Regions from separate parts of the Homo sapiens genome. Here region 1 is linked to region 2. The links come from fine-mapping of genetic effects on gene expression. Tissue or cell type: tibial artery. Region 2 holds a variant in brackets; the other region holds the start of a gene. All regions are shown on one strand. Distances are from middle to middle.

What was found. PIP is the estimated chance that this variant, and not a neighbour inherited with it, causes the effect.
Region 1: it holds the start of LAX1, and the variant in region 2 is fine-mapped to the expression of LAX1 in tibial artery (GTEx, PIP 0.96).

What each region holds. Positions count from the first base shown.
Region 1 is chr1:203,760,582-203,770,644 of GRCh38, reverse strand. It overlaps LAX1 (lymphocyte transmembrane adaptor 1), which reads right to left and starts at 5,462. Exons shown (of 5, transcript NM_017773.4): 1 at 4,991-5,462. The coding sequence starts at 5,079. RefSeq lists an enhancer at 5,220-5,579.
Region 2 is chr1:203,734,964-203,745,655 of GRCh38, reverse strand. It overlaps ATP2B4 (ATPase plasma membrane Ca2+ transporting 4), which reads right to left. Exons shown (of 21, transcript NM_001684.5): 21 at 1,575-6,110. The coding sequence ends at 5,802. LOC102723543 (a long non-coding RNA gene) reads left to right here and starts at 1,097. Exons shown (of 2, transcript XR_426890.4): 1 at 1,097-1,451; 2 at 7,609-8,462. The variant G/A (reference allele first, on the strand shown) is at 6,012.

The DNA of each region.
Region 1 (10,063 bases), 25 kb before region 2:
GACAGGGGAGAAGGGAACTATTCCTTTCAAATGCCTACCGGGTGCCAGGGATTCACATGTGAAACTTATTAATCTCTTTCTTTCTTTCTTTCTTTCTTTCTTTCTTTCTTTCTTTCTTTCTTTCTTTCTTTCTTCCTTCCTTCCTTCCTTCCTTCCTTCCTTCCTTCCTTCCTTCCTTCCTTCCTTCCTTTCTCTCTCTCTCTCTCTCTCTTTCTTTCTTTCTTTCTTTTTGATGGAGTCTTTCTCTGTCGCCCAGGCTGGAGTGCAGTGGCACAATCTCAGCTCGCTGCAACCTCCGCCTCCTGGGTTCAAGCCATTCTCCTGCCTCAGCCTCCAGAGTAGCTGGGATTACAGGAGCGTGCCATGAGGCCCAGCTAATTTTTGTATTTTTAATAGAGGCGGGGTTTCACCACATTGGCCAGGATGGTCTCAATCTCTTGACCTTGTCATCTGCCCGCCTTGGCCTCCCAAAGTGCTGGAATTACAGGTGTGAGCCACCGTGCCCGGCCTGTGAAACTTATTTAATCTTTAACAATCCTATCACACTTTGTGGCCAAGTAACCTGAGCTTTAGACTCAGAAAGGTAAAGTAACATGTCAGAGATCACCTAGGTAGGAAGGAGCAGAGAAGGAATATGAATCTAGGTCTGTTTGCGTCCAAAGACCATGCTCTTTCCACTCTGCCACACTGTCCTCCAAACCTGCAAAGTCAAAGTCATTTGGCCTTGCCCCTTCTTGTTCCCTACTCGTGGGCTTCCTGGCTTGCTTGGAGGAGAGGATTAGCCAACGTACAGTTAAGGAGTGGCTCTGTGACAGAGTCCAGCTTGCATGAACTTGAATAACACCCCCCACCCCCCGCCGCCCCCCCCCCCGCACCAATTTGTGGAGCTGGTCTCCAAGCAACACACTGCTGTTGTGTGAAGTTTAACCAATTCATGTTCTGTGCTACCTTGCAATTCCCTGGCAGGGCTGGCGTCACTGCTCGGTTTTGCTTGGGTGTTGAAATGCATCCAGATGATTACAACCCCAGATGGCTATGCCTAATGCAACAGGAAGCTGCCAACTGAAGTTACAGCGGGAATCAGGAACTGACGTGCTACCCCCAATTATTAGAAACCAGGGCATTTAACAGGGAAGGTTTTTGTCCCCTTGAGTTTTAGGCTTATTTATACAACTTTCTTTCTTTTCTTTTCTTTCTTTCCTTCTTTCTTTCTTTCTTTCTTTCTTTCTTTCTTTCTTTCTTTCTTTTTTTTTGAGACAGAGTCTCGCTGTGTCGCTCAGGCTGGAGTGCAGTGGCATGATCTTGGCTCACTGCAACCTCTGCCTCCCAGGTTCAAGCGATTCTCCTGCCTCAGTCTCCTGAGTAGCCGGGACTATAGACACACGCCACCACGCCCGGCTAATTTTTTTTGTATTTTTATTAGAGATGGGATTTCACCATGTTGGCCAGGCTGGTCTTGAACTCCTGGCATCAAATGATCCGCCTGCCTCAGTCTCCCAAAGTGCTGGGATTACAGGTGTGAGCCACCGCGCCCAGCCCATCCAAGTTTCTAGTGAGCATTTCTAACTAGTTGCCTAACAGACAGCTCAAACCAAAACAGAGCTCCTGTTCTCCCCACATAAACCTGCTACTCCCCAGGTGTTTCCCATAATCTAATGGCTTAGTCAAAAATCTTGGAGCCATTCTTGGAGCTCTTTTTCTTTCATGCCCCACTTCCAGTCAACCAGCAGATTCTGGCTGCATTACCCTGGGCATTTATCCCAAACCCAACCACCTCTTGCTCCTCTGTTGCCACCACTCGGGTCTAAGCTGCTGTGCATTTCACAGGAACCTTTGCAATAACTTTCCTGGATGGTCTCCTTGCTTTAACTCTTGGCCTCAACATTCGTTGTCTTCACACAAAAACCAGTGTGATAATTCTAAATGGTAAATCAGATCACATCCCTCCTCTACTCATCACTCTCCCCGGCTTCGAGTGACTTAGAATAAAGTCTATAGTCCTTCCTCAGAGAGGACTTGACGGCACGATATGATCTGGCCTCTGCTTACCTCTGACCTTATTTCCTACCACTTTCCCTCTGACTTTGACTGCCAGGATCCCTTGCCCATGCAGAGCACAGTTCTGTGTCAGACCTGCCACTCCCTCTCCCAGGAATCCTCCTCTCCCAGCTGTCTGCATGGCTGAGTCCCTCTCATTCAGGTCTCTTCTGAAACGTCAAATGTCATCTCCTCAGACACGTCTTCCATGGCCACACCCTATTACTTGCAGTCCCCTTGCTGTGCTCCACTTTTTCTTCATAGCACTGATGACTGATTGATATATCTTTTTTTTTGAGATGGAGTTTCGCTTTTGTTTCCCAGGCTGGAGCGCAATGGCATGATCTTGGCTCACCACAACCTCCCCCTCCTGGGTCCAAGTGATTCTTCTGCCTCAGCCTCCCGAGTAGCTGGGACTACAGGTACGCACCACCACGCCTGGCTAATTTTTGTATTTTTAGTAGAGATGGGGTTTCATCATATTCGTCAGGCTGGTCTCGAACTCCTGACTTTGGGTGATCTGCCCACCTTGGCCTCCCAAAGTGCTGGGATTACAGGCGTGAGCCACCTCACCCAGCCCGATTGATTGATATTATACATTCATATGCTTATCTGTTTATCATTTTTTTATTTAAAAAAAAAAAATTTTGAGACAGGGTCTCCATGTGTTGCTCAGGCTGGTTTTGAACTCCTGGGCTCAATTGATCCTCCTGCCTTGGTCTACCAAAGGCTTGGATTATAGGCATGAGCCACCACGCTCAGCTCTGTTCATTATTTGACTCTCCCACTTGTCTATAATCTTCAGGAGGTTATGGACTTGTTTATCCTGTTCACCTAGTGCCTTAAACAGTGCTTGGTACTTAGTAGGGCCCTGATAAATATTTGTTAAATGAATGAATTAATAAACAAATGAATTAATATAGAAATAGTTTTAAGTGTAGTACAGCCATTATGGAAAACACTATGGAGGTTCTTCAAAAATTAAAAATAGAACTACCAAGGCGGGGCATGGTGGCTCATGTCTGTAATCCCAGCACTTTGGGAGGCGGAGGTGGGCGGATCACCTGAGGTAAGGAGTTCGAGACCAGCCTGACCAACATGGAGAAACCCCCAACTCTACTAAAAATACAAAATTAGCCAGGCATGGTGGCTCATGCCTGTAATCCCATTTACTGGGGAGGCTGAGGCAGGAGAATCGCTTGAACCTGGGAGGTGGAGGTTGCAGTGACCCTAGATTGCAACCTTGCACTCCAGCCTGGGCAACAAGAGTGAAACTTTGTCTCAAAAAAAAAAAAAAAAAAAAAGAAGTGGAGAGTAGAATGGTGGTTACCAGGGAGGGGTTGCAGAGATGTTGGTCAAAGGGTACAAAATATCAGTTAGAGAGAAAGAAAAATTCAAGGGATCTGTTGTATAACATGATGCCTATAGTTAATAAAAATGTGTTGATGGTCCAGACCCGGTGGCTCATGCCTGTAATCCCAGCACTTTGGGAGACAGAGGTGGGCGGATCACCTAAGGTAGGGAGTTCGAGACCAGCCTGACCAACATGAAGAAACCCCATCTCTACTAAAAATACAAAAAAAAGTTAGCCGCGGGTGGTGGCACATGCCTGCAATCCCAGCTACTCAGGAGGCTGAAGCAGGAGAATAGCTTGAACCTGGGAGGTGGAGGCTGCAGTGAGCCGAGATCACGCCACTGCACTCCAGCCTGGGCGACAGAGCGAGACTCTGTCTAAAAAAATAAAAATAAAAAAAACAAACAAAACAAAACAAAAAAAGTGTTGATGACTATAGTTAATAAAAATGTGTCATATTCTTGAAAATTGCTGAGAAATTTTAAGTATTCTCACCACAAAAGAAAATTGTGAAGTAATGTGTATCTTAATTAGTTTAATGTAGCTATTGTACAATGTATACATATTTCAAAACAACAGGCTATCATGATAAATATATATAATTTTGATTTGCCAATTAGAAATAAATAAAAATAAATGAAGAAATAGTTTTGGAGAGATGCTTCAGGCTTCTGATTCATTGCTCATTGATGCTCATATCTACCAGCAAGTGACATGTGTTTGCCATGATAATAACATTTATTTCCCCAAACGACTGCAATTTTATTTTATTTTTTGAGACAGAGTTTCGCTTTTGTTGCCCAGGCTGGAGTACAATGACATGACACTGCAACCTCTGTTTCCCGGGTTCAAGTGATTCTCCTGCCTCAGCCTCCTGAGTAGCTGGGACTACAGGAGCATGCTACCACTCCCGGCTAATTTTTGTATTTTTAGTAGAAACGGGGTTTCACCATGTTGGCCAGGCTGGTCTTGGCCAGGCTGGTTCAAGAGTGGGGGTGATCCGCCCCACTCGGCCTCCCAAAGTGCTGGGGTTACAGGTGTGAGCCACCGCGCCCAGTCAGCTGCCAATGTTTTTAAAGTTTCAACTGTGGATGGATTTTTAATTTTGTTTGTATGAGATTGAAAGTAGTAGCAGTAATTCATACCCATGATTAGTTCTGTAAGATTTTACGTCCTAAGGACGTATCTTTATTACATCTATCACTACATTTTTTATTCATGACAAGTTTTTGGATCTCAAAACACATCCTTGGAAAACTCAGCCTTTTGTTTCTGTCATGGTGACACCTAGGAAAGACTGATGATAGGGTTCAGGGCCTCCGAGAGGTGAGAAATCCAACCAGTCTAAGCAACTAGCTTTAAGGGCCAGTGTTATCACAGTTTTTCCTCTACCACAATATTTTCTTTCTTTCCTCAATACCTTCCTTTCCCCCTAGCACCCCTGAGCAAATGCCTCCAAGCCTAGAGTTTGGTGGTTTAGTAGACCGAGCCTGGGTGTTGAGAGGTGGCAGCACTGCTGTGTAAGAAGCTCCTAAGGGTGGACTAGGACCTTCTGCCTAAATCAGGGCAGGGTGGAGCTCACCACCCTGAGTCACTCACCTGTCCAGGCTGCGGGGAGTCACATGCAGAGTGCTGGACTCCAAGGTCCTCCCTCTGATTGTCGAAAGGGTTGGAGTGACACCATCCATTGTATCAGGAACCTTTGAGATGCTCTCTGGCTTCAGCTTCTAAGTTTCTCTTAATCATAATCAGTTAGCCAGCATGTCTACCACTTCTCCCCACCCCCGCAACAAACTCCCTATCTCGTGTCTACCTCTGAAACGTCAGGCCAAGTTGACCCAACATACAAAAGCAACAGGTTTGGTTCTACCTGGACGTGGCTAATGCCCACTGCAGGAAGTGCGATCTCATCCGGACATGGTGCTTCCAAGTGAGGTGGCTCAGGGAGAATCTGTGGCCTCTGCCTTCACGTTTCTGGTGGAAACGTGAGGGGCACAGAGGGGGAAACTGCCAAGAGGCTCAAGAGAGGCTCCGTGAGAAGCTCGTCTTCCTTCAACACCCAAAGCAGAGTGAAAAGAGCAAACCACTTTGCCAGAATGGAAACAGAGAGTCAGTCACCGGAAACGACACCACCAATGTGCTAATGAAGCACAGGGCACAGGAAACTCTGCTCAGCTCTTAATCTGCTAGAAGAAAACATATCTTCAACCCACCGTTCCTGGGTTTGCCAGGTGCTCTGTGGTCTGTGATGAGTGTGATTAAAAATGGGGCAGGGTAGTAGAGAACTTGTGATTCTTCACCCTGAGTTTCTGAGACACTTAGAGTTGTATAAGTCTTCAGATTTACAGTATTTTCTAAGCAAGTCTAAGGAGCACTGGAGGTTGCCTTTTAGAGTGAAATGCAGATCTCCGGGACCCTCTTCTGATTCAGTGGGTGGAGGCTGCAGAGGGGGCAGGCTTTGGCTATCGATGCTTTCCAGGTGAATTTGATGGAGCTTTCAGGTGATTTTGATGGAGCTCATCTGTGTTTCATGTTTTGGGAACCTCTGCTCTGGGTACTACCTTAAGAATAGAAGTTATGCTGGGTTAGCAGGACCCCTGCTCCCCCAAGGCAACCTTCCACAGCTCCTGGCTGCTGGTGATCTCCTGTTCTCAGGGCTCTTCTGAAGATCAGTCACAGTCTTACTTGTCACACACCTGTCTCAGAAGCTGAACAAGTTCATCCTTAAGAGCTACCCAAAGTGTTTGAAGATTGTTCAAAATTTATTGCTAACTCCCCTCCCTTCTTGAGCCTACTAATCTCCGGAAACACTCTTTGCATCTTGGGAGAGTCCAAAGAGAAGGGGCCACTAAGACTGTTGTAAGGATGTGAAGAACCTCTCTGATTGCACTTTCCACAAGGAAATGGATTCCCAGATGAATGGAAGGGCAGACCAGCAGTACCCTCCTAGAACCATGCCTCCCTCCCATCTCTTCCCAGTGGACATTGAGGTCCTCAGCTTTCCTGAGGTGGCAGCCCCTGGCCTGTCTGCATCCAGACTCTCACAGAGTCCCCAGGGGCTGCAGACTGGCCATGGCTGGCTTTCCAGGGAGCTTTATCATTCCAGGTCCTGGGCCCCTTCCCTCCCAGGAGCTTCACCTGGTAGGAAGCAGAAATGGCTCAGAGGCAGCTGGTGCTGGAGCTGGAACCTGGGTCTCTGCCCACTTCTCCTTTGGATCAGGTCTGAGTAGGAACTAGGACTACTCACAAGATCCATCATGCTGGTGGCAAGGACTGGGGTCCTGGGCCATTGGAACCAATAAGGGACTGTGAGAATCAGGACCTCGGAAGGCAGTACACGGAAAGGGCACATGGAACCAAACCTCAGAACCATGACTGCTAATTAAAAAAAAAAAATTTTTTTTTTTTTTAAAGAACTTTTCCATTGCATGTGATCATTTCAGGGCCTCACTTATCTTATCTACCCAATCTGCTGCAGTTAGACCAATCTTCCCTCTGGTTGTCCAATTCTCTCCTGCCCCCACATCTCAGGGAAATCACCACCTCAGAGGCAGCTGCCCAAGTTACCTGCCTCAGACTGCAGGTGAGTGCCAGGATTCCAGGCCTTGGCTGTGCCCCTCATCCTGCTCTCCTTTCCTTCCCCATGGGGCAAAATCCAATCAAACTGACAAACTAAAACAAAAAGTAGGTAGCTGAAATGATTCATCATAATAGCGGGGAAAAAACAACAGCAACAACAAAAAACACTCGTTCCTGGGAAATGGGGTGTATTTTGTTGTTGTTGTTGTTTTTTTGAGATAGAGTTTTGCTCTTGTTGCCCAGGCTGGAGTGCAATGGCATGATCTTGGCTCACCGAAACCTCCGCCTCCCGGGTTCAAGCAATTCTCCTGTCTCAGCCTCCCGAGTAGCTGGCATTACAGGCATGCACCGCCACACCCAGCTAATTTTGTATTTTTAGTAGAGACGGGGTTTCTCCATGTTGGTCAGGCTGGTCTCCAACTACTGACCTCAGGTGATCCGCCCGCCTTGGCCTCCCAAAGTGCTGGGATTACAGCATGAGCCACCGCACCTGGCCAAGGAGTGTATGTTTTAAATCCGATTGCTCTCGTGTTGTTGATGTTGTTTTTTTCTGAGACAGGGTTTCACTCCTGTTGCCCAGGCTGAAGTGCAGTGGCATGCTCTTGCTCACTACAACCTATGCCTCCCAGGCTCAAGCCATTCTCCTGCCTCAGTCTCCCAAGTAGCTGGGACTACAGGTACACGCCACCACACATGGCTAATTTTTGTATTTTTAGTAGAAATGAGGTTTCAGCATGTTAGCCAGGCTGGTCCAAACTCCTGGGCTCAAGTGATCTGCCCACCCTGGCCTCCCAAAATTCTGCGATTATAGGTGTGAGCCACTGCACCCAGCCTGCTCTAGTGTTTTAACCACTTTTCATGATTTTTTGGGGTCGGATGTTACATATGATTGTTACCAGACCCCAACACTTACCCAGAGTTAGCCTTTGGGTTGGGGGTTTCTGCACTATAGTCCCTTCAGTGGTTGCCAGAAAGGTGTTACAGGGAAGGGGTCCTGATGCAGACCCCAAGAGAGGGTTCTTGGATCTTGCCCAAGGAAGTATTCAGGGCGAGTCCATAGAGTAAAGTGAAAGCAACTTTATTAGGAAAGTAAAGGAATAAAAGAATGGCTGCTTCACGGACAGAGCAGCCTCAAGGGCTACTGGTTGCCCATTTTTATGGTTATTTCTTGATGATATGCTAAACACGGGCTGGATTATTCATGCCTCCCCTTTTTAGACCATATAGACTAACTTCCTGTTGTTCCATGGCATTTGTAAACGGTCATGGTGCTGATGGGAGTGTGGCAGTGAGGATGACCAGAGGACATTCTCATGGCCATGTTGGTTTTGGTGGGTGTTAGCCGGCTTCTTTACTACAGCCTGTTTTATCAGCAAGGTCTTTATGTCCTATATCTTGTGCCAACCTCCTATCTCATTCTGTGACTTAGAATGCCTTAACTGTCTGGGAATGCAGCCCAATAGGTCTCAGCCTCATTTTACCCAGCCCCTATTCGAGATGGAGTTGCTCTGGTTCATACGCCTCTGACAGGATTCTAAAGTATTAAGACTGTTTTTTGGCCAGGTGCAGTGGCTCACGCCTGTAATCCCGGCAAGTTGGAAGGCCGAGGTGGCTGAATCACTTGAGGTCAGAAGTTTGAGACCAGCCTGACTAACATGGAGAAACTCCATCTCTACTAAAAATACAAAAAATTAGCCAGGCGTGGTTGTGCCTGACTGTAATCCCAGCTATTCAGGAGGCTGAAGCAGAATTGCTTGAACCCGGGAGGCAGAGGTTGCAGTGAGCCGAGGTCGCACCATTGCACTCTAGCCTGAGCAACGAGCAAAACTCCCCTCAAAAACAAACAAACAAACAAACAAACATTTATTTATTTATTTATTTTTGAGAAGGTGTCTCGCTCTTTCGCCCAGGCTGGAGTGCAGTGGCATGATCTCAGCTCACTGTAACCTCTGCCTCCTGGGTTCAAGCGATTCTTCTGCCTCAGCCTCCCGAGTAGCTGGGACTACAGGTGTGCGCCACCATGCTCGGCTAATTTTTGTATTTTTTTTTTTTTTTAGAAAAGACGGGGTTTTACCATATTGGCCAGGCTGGTCTCCAACTCCTGACCTTGTGATCCACCTGCTTTGGCCTCCCAAAGTGTTGGGATTACAGGTGTGAGCTACCAGGTCCAGCCTATTTATTTATTTTTTGAGATGGAGTCTTGCTCGTCGCTCAGGCTTGAGTGCAATGGCATGATCTCGGCTCACTGCAACCTCTGCCTCCCGGGTTCAAGTGATTATCCTGCCTCAGCCTCCTGAGTAGCTAGGATTACAAGCGCTCGCCACCACGCCCAGCTAATTTATGTGTTTTTAGTAGAGATGGGGTTTTGCCATGTTGGCCAGGCTGGTCTCGAACCCCTGACCTTGTGATCTGCCTGCCTCAGCCTCCCAACTTGCTGGGATTACAGGCATGAGCCACCACACCTGGCCTAGACTGTTATTTTTGTGTTTTTTTGTTTTTTTTTTTTTTGAGACGGAGTCTTGCTCTGTCACTCAGGCTGGAATGCAATGGCACGATCTTGACTCACTGCAACCTCCGCCTCCCAGATTCAAGTGATTCTCCTGCCTCAGCCTCCCGAGTAGCTGGGATTACAGTCATGCGCCACCACACCCGCTAATTTTGTATGTTTAGTAGAGATGGAGTTTCACCATGTTTGCCAGGCTGGTCTCAAACTCCCAACCTCAGGTGATCCGCCTGCCTCAGCCTCCCAAAGTGCTGGGATTACAGGTGTGAGCCACCGCCCCTGGCCCTAAACTGGTTTTATTTATTTATTTATTTGAGGCAGAGTCTCATTGTGTCGCCCAGGCTGGAATGCAGTGGCATGATCTAGGCTCACTGCAAACTCCACTTTCTGGATTCAAGTGATTCTCCTTCTTCAGTCTCCTAAGTAGCTGGGATTACAGGCACATGCCACCATGCCTGGCTGATTTTTGTATTTTTTGTAGAGACGGGGTTTTGCCTTGTTGGCCAGGCTAGTCTTCAACTCCTGAGCTCAAGTGGTCCAGCTGCCTAGGCTTCCCAAAGTGCTGGGATTACAGGTATGAGCCACAGCAC
Region 2 (10,692 bases):
GATCTCGGCTCACAGCAAGCTCCGCCTCCCAGGTTCACGCCATTCTCTTGCCTCAGCCTCCCGAGTAGCTGGGACTACAGGCACCTGCCACCACGCCCGGCTAGTTTTTTGTATTTTTTAGTAGAGATGGGGTTTCACTGTGTTAGTCAGGATGGTCTCAATTTCCTGACCTCATGATCCGCCCACCTTGGCCCCCCAAAGTGCTGGGGTTACAGGCATGAGCCACTGCGCTTGGCTGAATTTATTTTTTGTAGAGACAGGGTTTCTCCATGTTGGTCAGGCTCGTCTCGAACCCCTGACCTCAGGTGATCCGCCTGCCTTGGCCTCCCGAAGTGCTGGGATTATAGGTATGAGCCACTGCGCTCGGACCTTCTTTTTTTTTTTTTGAAATGGAGTTTCACTCTTGTTGCCCAGGCTGAAGTGCAATGGCGTGATCTTGGCTCACCGCAACCTCTGCCTCCCAGGTTCAAGTGATTCTCCTGCCTCAGCCTCCGAGTAGCTGGGATTACAGGCATGTACCACCATGCCTGGCTAATTTTTGTATTTTTAGAAGAGATGGGGTTTCTCCATGTTGGTCAGGCTGGTCTCGAATTCCCGACCCCAGGTGATCCACCCATCTTGGCCTCCCAAACTGTTGGGATTACAGGCGTGAGCCACTGCACCCGGCCATAAGTCTTTTTCAACCAGGGCTAGATCCTCTTTCAGAGCCAGACTATTAAAATAGCCAGGAGAGTTTGGGGCGTTCTTCAATGTCATGCTTTTCCTAAAGGAATTTGGGGAGTGGACAAGGTCCTTTCCTCCTTATGATGTGTGTGTGTGTGTGTGTGTATTTTAGAGATGGGGTCTTGCCATGTTGCCCAGGCTGGACTTGAACTCCTGGGCTCAAGCGATCCTCCCGCCTCAGCCCCTTCCCCTCCCCAGTAGCTGGGACAACAGGTGTGAACCACTGTGCCTGGCTCCTCCCTGTGATATTTTAAAAGAGGGTTGGGGAACTTCGTCGTGCACCTGGATGAGAGCTGCAGGAAGGAGTTGTCTCAGATATGAAAGCTCAGAATGTAAATGACCTGCCAGGAAGCTGTTTTGACCTGAAACTGGGGCCTAATATGAGTCTCTAGCAAGACTCAATTAATGAAAGACATTTTTTAAACCATAGGGAAGTGAGGGGGAGGGTGGAGAACCCAAGGGAAAGGCGGCTAATGTAAGGGAAACTACTTCTCCTAAAAGACATTTCATATAAAACAAACCAAAACCAAAACCAAAAAAAACAAAAAACAAAAAAAGGAAAGAAAAAAAGCAAGGACTGCCAAGACTGCCTCTTTCTTATTCTTCCAAAAGCTCCAGCTCCTGAACTGTGGATTCTAACCAAGGTGGGTGGAGCACAGCTTGCACTGCAAGGGAATGAAGCCAATGCGAAGGCCCAGAGGGAAGGGAAGCGTTGTCAGAGTCTGGTGGTAAGCTGAATTCTGTGCCTGTTTAAATGGGGTTGTCCTTGTGGTTGCGGCATTTCCCTTCTCAACTTCAACAGACAATCAGTGGCATTACCCAAAAGTGGAGACGCATTGAGGACAGCACAGTTACAAGTGGGCATGAGTTTTTATTCTCAGTGCACAGCAGTATTGGTTTCTGTTCATCAGCAAAAAGCTTTATTGGCTCCAACAAATTATCCCTTTTAAAACTCCTCTTCTTCTTCTGGTCTCAGTGGAACAACACATTTGAATTTCAGATTTGCAGTTTATAGCATTTTTTTTCCCTAAGAACCATATAAATACATGCAAAACCTTGTACATAGAGCTTAAATAATATCAAAATGCAAATATAGATTGGGTGCACTGTTAAGCTGAATTGCAAATTATGGCAACACACACTGGACTGGGGTATACGTTGCTTTGATATCACCATTTGTTTGTTTATGTCATGCAGACCACAATAGTCAATCTTTTGTTTTTCTTTTTTGTACAAAAATACCAGTGCTTGTTATACTAGTTACTAAAAGAAGAAGAAACTCAAAATTCCTATCTGCGTGCTAATTTGAAAAGAACAACGTAGATAGATTTGTTGGCACATATATATGGCATATTCACATATGGCATATATACATATGGGGAGAAAACATGAACCAAAGGCCAATTCAGTTATGGGAGCTCATCTCCTTCCATCTCTCCTAATCAAGAGCAAAGGGAACAGCAGGCCTAACAGCAGGGTTGGGAAGGCAAAAGGACTGGCACTGAACTAAGTGAAAGGGCGTCTGGTCTATTCAGAGGAAGAGGCTGGAATGGCTTAACAATAGCAGGCATTTATAAGTGCCCACCCTCACCAATGCATCGGGGGTGGTCCCTAGATATGAAAGGTGAGGAAGTCTCTGCATACTGTGATGGTACCACGGGCTGCTTCAATTGTAAGGCAAAGGAAGCAGGAAAGAAAGGAAGGGATGCATTTAGAGGCTTTTCCACACAAGCGAGTGTGCCACGCCCCTCTGGGTTTTCAGCAGTGAGGTAACCATTCAGATTTAACCATGCCAACTCTCCTCTCTGAAGCTCAAGGGGAAGAAGAAACTCAAACCCTAAAGAACCCACAAGTGTCCAGAGGGATTTCTAGGTGATCTCTCTCTTAACCCCTTTAGGGACAGGAGAGTCATTCCAGAGGACAGATGATACTATGGGAAGGATCTAGCCTTAAGACTGTCACTCAGGGCTAGAACCAGCCATTGTTTTATCCATTTAGAATTCTGTCCCCATTTAATATATTGCACAAAATCTTTCTAGGGGAGGGAAGGCATCACAAATAAGATCCTTGCACAAAAACTCACTAATGGAAAACTCCAGGGGGAACAGGAAATAAAAACCATGAAAAATGCAAACCCCAAATCAGAGTATCCTTATAGACCAGGAGATATTCGTGTCTTTTATACCACTCTGCCAGCTATTCTTCAAGAAACACAAATCCAACAGAGGCCCCTGATCCTAATGACTAGTCAGGAAAGATTCTGTCTATCCATCTGCATGGTGGGGGTTGGGGGGAAGATTCATTTCCTGACAGCTGTGTCCCTTGCTGGGTGTTTTCCTGACTATCCACAGTTTACTACCCGTTTTTCTAGGTTTATTAAGAGAGGAAGCTAGGATGATACGTTCTCCTTCTCCCCATCAGACCCTTTTCAAATCCAAAGCACCATTTTGGGGAAAAGTGTTATTAACTTATGCCATATTTACCCACTGCCAGTTGGATCAGTGAAACTGAATAGAAAAAACTTATATAAAAAACATATGCACATAGACACTTAAACTTACCTAATTCCATATCAACAAAATTTATATTAAAAAAGTCTAGAACCCAACAATTTTTCTTCCCTAAGTATAAAGATGGCTGTTTGCAGAAAGAAAGTATGGTGTATTGGTTTTAAAACCAATTACAAATATACTAAGTCACCTGTCATGCCAAACAGCTGGTTATGTGCTCCCTTCCACAGGGCTACATGACGGCACTTTATTTTAAATCCTTTAAACAAAATACATATGGCTGACCCAAAAATATCAGTTTCTGATCTAAAGAAAACTATAATTTTTGCATATATTTCTATATTTTCTCTCCTATTATGGAAACTAGAACACAAGAAAAAAAACCATTGACTTTTAAAAAGTAGACACAAGCCCTCAAGGGTAACCTGTCAGGCACCATGAGAACCTTTTGTGAACAGGAATGGTAAAATAGCCTTCAAAGCTCGTTATTGGCTTGCTATTTAAAATGATCTGAGGTAATACAAGATTTGATAGAATTAAATCTTCTAAAATAGTTGATGAATATATATGTGAAACCTAACACCTTGGGTGAGCTGTTTTTTTCCCCTATGAGTATTTAAGACACAAAAAAGAATTATTGAAGCATGTACGTTTTACAAAACCAAAATCAAATTTGCTTTCCTATTTCCTACGATGATGGATTATGTAGTCATGGGGATATGTAGGGGACATTGTTTCTTTATGTTTCCTACTGTGGACAGCTCAGGTGAAAGGGGTGAGGGAGGACAGATCCAGAAGAAAAGGCTAGGTGGATCAGGTCATCTTCCTCTCACATGGGAATTTGGCCGTTCATACATCCCCTCTTCTTGACTCTCATCACTCTAGAAAGGGGGGTGGGCTTCATTTATCTAATGGGAGGTGAGAGTCAGGGACATGAACTGGCCCCTACACAGAAGTCAACACCAGCAGGGATACAAATGGAGCTCCTGCAAACGTGGCTCCACGTTGTCCCAGTAAGGAACACTTAAAAAATCTCCTAGCAAAGTCCCCAACTCCTGAGAGGCAGATGGGAAGGGGATGCTTTGGGCAGTATTCAGGGGAAAAAAAGGCACAGGGCTTTACTGGGCAGCAGCTGGAGCATGTGGCTGAAGCGGGGCTGGAGGAAGGGGGAGTGTGCCGGGTGCGGGGGGTCTTTTTCTCGTTTAAGTTGGCAAAATGTCACAGGGGCCTCCCACTTTGGATACATATTTTCAAAATCAGAATATTTGAGAAAGGCTGGGACCTTCTCAGAGACTGGAAAAGTTGTGACACGTGGCAAAAATTAGAATCAGAAACTGGAGAGAATGTCGAAGCTGGTCCCCAGGCACCTAAGCTCAAGGTTTCTGGCCTCTGCAGGAAGGTTTTCTCAGATCATGCTAGAATGGCTCTTTGGCCTCTCCCAAGGCTTCTGAACACTCATTCCCCACCAGTCAGGTCCTGCCCTGGAGAGCCTTGGCAGATGGCTTTGAAAGCAGTGGTCACCCCAAAGAGGAGCCCACAAAAGTCTGCTTTGATGGTCTGTCTTGTCCTAGATTTGGCAGCGTCTGGTCCTCAATATCCAAGCCCAGTAAGGGGGCAGGGTCATACCCAGTTCATTCTTTTGCCACCACTTTAGGAATAAGAGAAAGCTCAGGCTTTCAGGTAAAAACTGTATACCACACATATGCAACCTTCATGGGCAAGGCTGATCTCCCTGGCACTTAAGAACCACATACACTTTACAAGATGGCAATTTAAAAGCAGAAGGTAACCTGGCAACAACAGAGAAATATTCTTACCAGCACTTAATTGCTTCAAAAGGACCCTTTTAACAAAGAAACTGGTTGGATTCTGGAACTAAATCAAGGGTTCTTTTGGGCCAAAAGGGAGAAGGATCTAAGTTTACACAATTCATCCATATCCTTTCCATTTTCTTAATCATCATAAAAAAAAAAAAAAAAAAGGAAAGGAAGGGAAGACAAAAGACAAAGAACTTTGGAGAGGTTTGAATGAAAGGGCAGAAAGAGTTAGAGGCCTACAGGCCTTTAGGTGTAAGTTTTCAAAGTGGGAAAAATTGAAAAACAATCACACTACTGGCGGATTTTATACATTCCATCTCTACCGCAACATATTTCACTTGGGGATATTTGTCTCCCTCTGAACCCTCAACTTAGCTTATAAATGGCACAGACTTGTAGGACAAAATCCAGAATTCAGGAGAGGAACATCGGGGAGAATGTGGGGTGGGGTGATGCCAAGAGGATTGTCATCATTTCTTTAAAAATGACAAGTGACTACCAAGGAGTAGATTCTACCATGACCTGAATGGGGTTTGACTGGGTCCCGCTACAAACCCCAAGTCAAGCTTAAGTTGAAATCCTTGTAAGTCTGTGCTCTTGCCTCTTCATGGTCAGGTAGAGGTTCACTTCACACACACTGCTGTTAACACAGCAGCTGACGTGACAATGAAAAGTCCCATCATCACCTCATAGATGGGATAGACGAAAATGGAAATAGGTAAAATAGGGATGAGAGTCAGAGAAAGAAAATTCAAACTGATGTCTCTAGGCTCTGTAGAGAGCTGTCCGACTGGGGGAGCTGCACTTGGTTGCAATCCACCGCATTGTTGTTTGTATTGGCATATGGAGTGACCTCACCATCCAACAGGAGCACCCTAGTCCCAAACTTAGAAGCCTTGTCAGGATTTTCCTCCTCTTCCTCATCCAGGAGTGGTGTTCGTGGCAACTCCTCCTCTATGGC[G/A]AATTCAGGGTGGGTCATGAAGCTGTGGATGGACTTTTGGTTGTAGGGTTTCTGAATGCTTTCGTGGAGGGAACTATGGAACGCTTTGACCACTTTGATCTATACCAGGGGAAGGAAAAGGAGGATGAGAAAATAGAGAGGTGAGAATTGGCCGGCAGAACAAGGAGATGGTGGATTTAGGAGAGAAACAAAACCCAGACTATAAAACATGACTGCTCAGCATCAAAACCAAACACACATCAGAAGAGATCATGGGGCACTAGAAACATCACATGGCTCAACTTTCAAGCAGTGGGGTGGGCTGGGGTGAGTGACGGCAACTAGGACGTTTTGAAAGCTGCATTAAAAAAAGTAGAAAACCCAAAGCAACGTTAGCATTCCCAAACAATCTACTTTTAAAATGAAACAGAAAACAAGAAGTTTCATTAGTTCTTTTAGATGGAGGGCAAGGACATGGGAACTAGATGCAAATTCATAGCCAAACTTAAAAAGATGATTGAGATATGTGGATTTCTGTGCTGAGGCCAAACATTTTGTGAATGTGGAATGGAAAAATTATGCATTGAGGTTTAGTTATCTGTTTAAAGACCTCAAAGAGCCAGCATACACCAATCTGCACATAATACAGGTTGGGTGACGAGTGACCATGAAAACTGTGCAGCCAGGCAGACAAACCAATCTTCATTTGTGTCAGCAGCATGCAGGAACTTAAAACTCTCTAATAATAATTTGCCCTTTCAGCCAGGAAACATGCATATTTTTATATCCCACAACCACCACTGTGTCCCCTCCCCGCAAATAACACAGAACTTCACTCCTTCAGCCCCTTCCCTAGAAGCAGCAGATAAAATACAGGTGTCAAAAGATGCCTTCCTCCTGCCTATTGAGAAAAGACCTGGCTCTCATAATTCAAATGCACGTTCATGTCTCTGATACACAGCAACTGTGCCCAATCATGCTGCTTTCTCTAGCTGTTTCCAAATTGTGAAGAGGAGCATAGTCTTATGTGGAGAAGGGAATGAAAGGGACCAGGGAGAGAAACCTAATCCAGGAGGCAGTGCTACAAACAAGTGGCCTTTCTGATGGGGTGGATGAAGAGGATGAAGGAAAGGAAACCACGTGCGGTTTTACTGGGCAAAAGGAGATGCATTGCCCAGTGTCATAGTCTCTGTCTTACTGCGCAAAAAGGAAGGGATTCGGTCAGTTCAGAGTCATCAAGAAAAAACTGACAATAATTGATGCCTGTGAACAGCTTTTGCTTGTCCACAGGCACCAGCAATTTTGGCAGCTCTGCTTTTCTGAACTGCAGGTCTCTCTGAGGCGTGGCTTAGAATCAGGGATGGTAGAATTGGGGTAGGGGGAGAGGGTTGGAGCTCCGAGAAGTTGGAGAGAGGGGCCAGGGGAAAGGTAAATGGTTGTAGGACGGTTCTAGTTGTTGGAAGGTGGCTGATCCTAGTCTTGTCCAAAAAATCTTCACTCAGAAAAGAAATGGGAGTAATGTGGGGGAAACTGTTGAGGTTGGAGGGGTAGGAGTGATGAAGGTGGGGGTAGGGTACCTCTTTCATTCCTCTGCTGTTTAACCAAAAATATATTCCAGGAGAAGACACAAGAATTTGGAGACAGCAGAGGATACAGAGAGTCAGCCAAATAAACTGGTTGGATCACCTGTTCCAGTGCTTCCTACCACCATACAGAACCTTCATAAATACCACTCAAAGAAGGCTCACTATCAATACTGTTGGTCCGTTTTCTCTGGAGGAGAATGTGTCTCTGCTGGCTAAGGCTTTCTTTATCTCGTCCCACTCTACTACAGCCTGCAGACCCACCCAAGACTGAGGGTGCTCAAAGCTCAGAAGGCAAAGGACTCCTTGCCACTCAACAGTATCAGCTCAACACCTCAGCCAAGAAGAATCAGGGAGCACAGGCACACACTCACCATGCTGAACAGACAGCGAGGACCACATTTTTATTATCTGATTCCTATTTGACCATCTGATGTGCAAATTTTACCTATCATGTTGCCTTTGCTCCAGATCTAGGTGAGATCAGATGGAATGGAGGCTCCATCTGGTCTTCAGGAAGTCTCAAGTTTTCACTGATCTACATAAAATCTCAGAGCAAGGCAATTTGGATTGAGTGAGTCCAAACCCAGTGCCTTCTCCTTTGACCCTGGCACAGATACACTGGCCAAGAGATGGGTCCAAAGTCATCCCACTCCATCAAAGCCATCACTGTCAGGAGTGATAACATAGCCCACATTTTTCATATGTTTTCAAGATCTCAAAATTTCTACTGAATATTACAGGAGGGCAGGTGCCTTTATCCGCCAGTACATCATCTTCAATATCAGTGATTTTCAATTTCCTGCTTCCATTCAATTGAATACTTTGTTGGAAAAAATTACATGTGAAGTCCACTATAGAAAATAAATTTGTAACAACTGGGGTTGGAGTGAGGGTCTGGAGCCCTGTTTGTTGGCTTTTCCTCTCACCTGTTGGGGTGACCAATAATACTGTTACAGGTAAACAATGAGGAAGATAAAAGTGAATTGGGGATGGGTAGATGGAAAAAATATGGGAAATGTCTTTTGGGGAGCAAGAAACAGTCATCCAGCTAGACTGCAGGACTTCTGGAATCTAAAGGGAAACCAGCCACCTGTAAGGAAGCTCACGTGAAGAGGGGTCAGAGAGCTAGGGAGCACCAGCTGGCTTGGTGGGTGGAGAGAAGGGTGAGGGAGGAGAGGGCATGGGGCTGTGCCAGGATGCCCCAACTCCAGCACTGGCCTCAGAGAACACATGCTGATGAACAATCATGCACTATATCACCACCAATCCACCCAGGGCTGGCATCTCCCCTTCCTGGAGCATGATGCCTGGTGCATGAGCAGTGTATGGGGACAAGACAGGGCTAGTGAAGAAGGTGCAGGGAAAGCTTTGAGCACTCTCCACACAGCCAGTCAACCCTTCCCTTCCTGGTCATCATTTCTCAAAACCTTGGGGAAATGTCTCTTTTGGGGCCCTGGCCTACAGGTGGAAGTGGCTGGTTGAAGGGCAACTCTTTTCATGACTCAGGAGACTGGGTATGAGTGCTGAGGGCTACTCTCTGCAGCTCAATGAGTGGGCAGGTGAAGACTCCATTTTCTCATTCTGTAGTTTTCTGCTTTTTTTTTTTTGGGGGGGATGGAGTTTCACTCTTGTTGCCCAAGCTGGAGTGCAATGGCGTGATCTCAGCTCACTGCAACCTCCGCCTCCCGAGTTCAAGCGATTCTCCTGCCTCAGCCTCTAGAGTAGCTGGGATTACAGACGTGCGCCACCGCACTCAGCTATTTTTTTTTGTATTTTTAGTAGAAATGAGGTTTCACCATGTTGGCCAGGCTGGTCTCGAACTCCTGACCTCAAGTAATCCACCTGCCTCGGCCTCCCAAAGTGCTGGGATTACAGGCGTGAGCCACCGCGCCAGGCAGTTTTCTGCTCTTTTCAGAAACCAGAAGAAAAGGATTAGGGCCTCCCTATGCAGGGAAATCTTAGAGATCTATCTAATGAAGGTTGGACAAACAGTTGAATTCATTTGGAGATCTGGAATGGGAAAGAGGGTTTTAAAATGTATGGCTATAACTTCTAGGAGCTCCAACTAAAAAGGCACAGCTGGAGAAAGAGCAGGTGTGGCCTGTCTCTCCTCTGATCTAGTCTTTGAGGATTTGGAGCACACCCTCTACCAGCTGCTCTACAAGATCCCAGTCTTCTGCTTAGTCTTCTACTTAGTCTCCTTCCACCATCAAACCATCAGGATATCTGACACTAACCCTTCCTATCAGAAAGGGATGATTAAAACAGAACAGAAGCTAGTTAGAAGGGGATGGCAGAACTAGAAGGAAAAAAGGAATTAAGAGAGGAATATGAAAGAACTGGTGGGAGAGGTTCCTGGATACTTGCAGGGCAAGACTTAGTGAGTTCTTTCTTGCCTGTTTTTTTGACCTAAAGAAATTGTATGTATCTCTATCAAGTTCCACCCCCATTCCTCACATCAGAACACTTTGGCTAAAGAGACAAAACAAATCTAAGTCTGGTCAACCCACACAGTCCGTGATCATGTGAACCACAGACAAGGCAACTGTTCTTTCTTGAGCCCCTTTGCAGAGGTCGGGGTGGGGGGTGGTGAGGTTGGGAATGGGGGAGGAAGGAACAGACTGAACACTCAGCTATTTGAAACCCACATTATATTTAATACAGATAAACTCCTTCCCACATTATCAGCAAAGAGCTGGCTACCTTCTCTCTCCTCTCTGAGTCCCATTTGGGGAAGGGAAAATGACCAGGAATAGGAAGACATAAGCATTAGCAAGAATCCAAGAATCTACCAATGGGAACACCAGATCTTAGGTTGTGAGTTGATAATACTCCAATTGCAAGTCCGGCTGAGAAAGGGCTTCCTGAAACTTTATGTGCAAAATAAGTGCTGGCTATTGGTGAAACAATCAAACTAGAGAAAAGGAGAAGCAAAATAAAAGGCACTCCTCTTCAGAAACTCCTAAAAGTTTAGTAAATGAAGAAAAAATGTTATTTTGACTCTTTTGTATATTTCTCGTACCTTCATGTGAACTAATTGATTTTTTTTCTTCGTTTTTTTTTTTTTTTTTTTTTTTGAGATGGAGTCTGTCTCTGTCACCCAGGCTGGAGTGCAG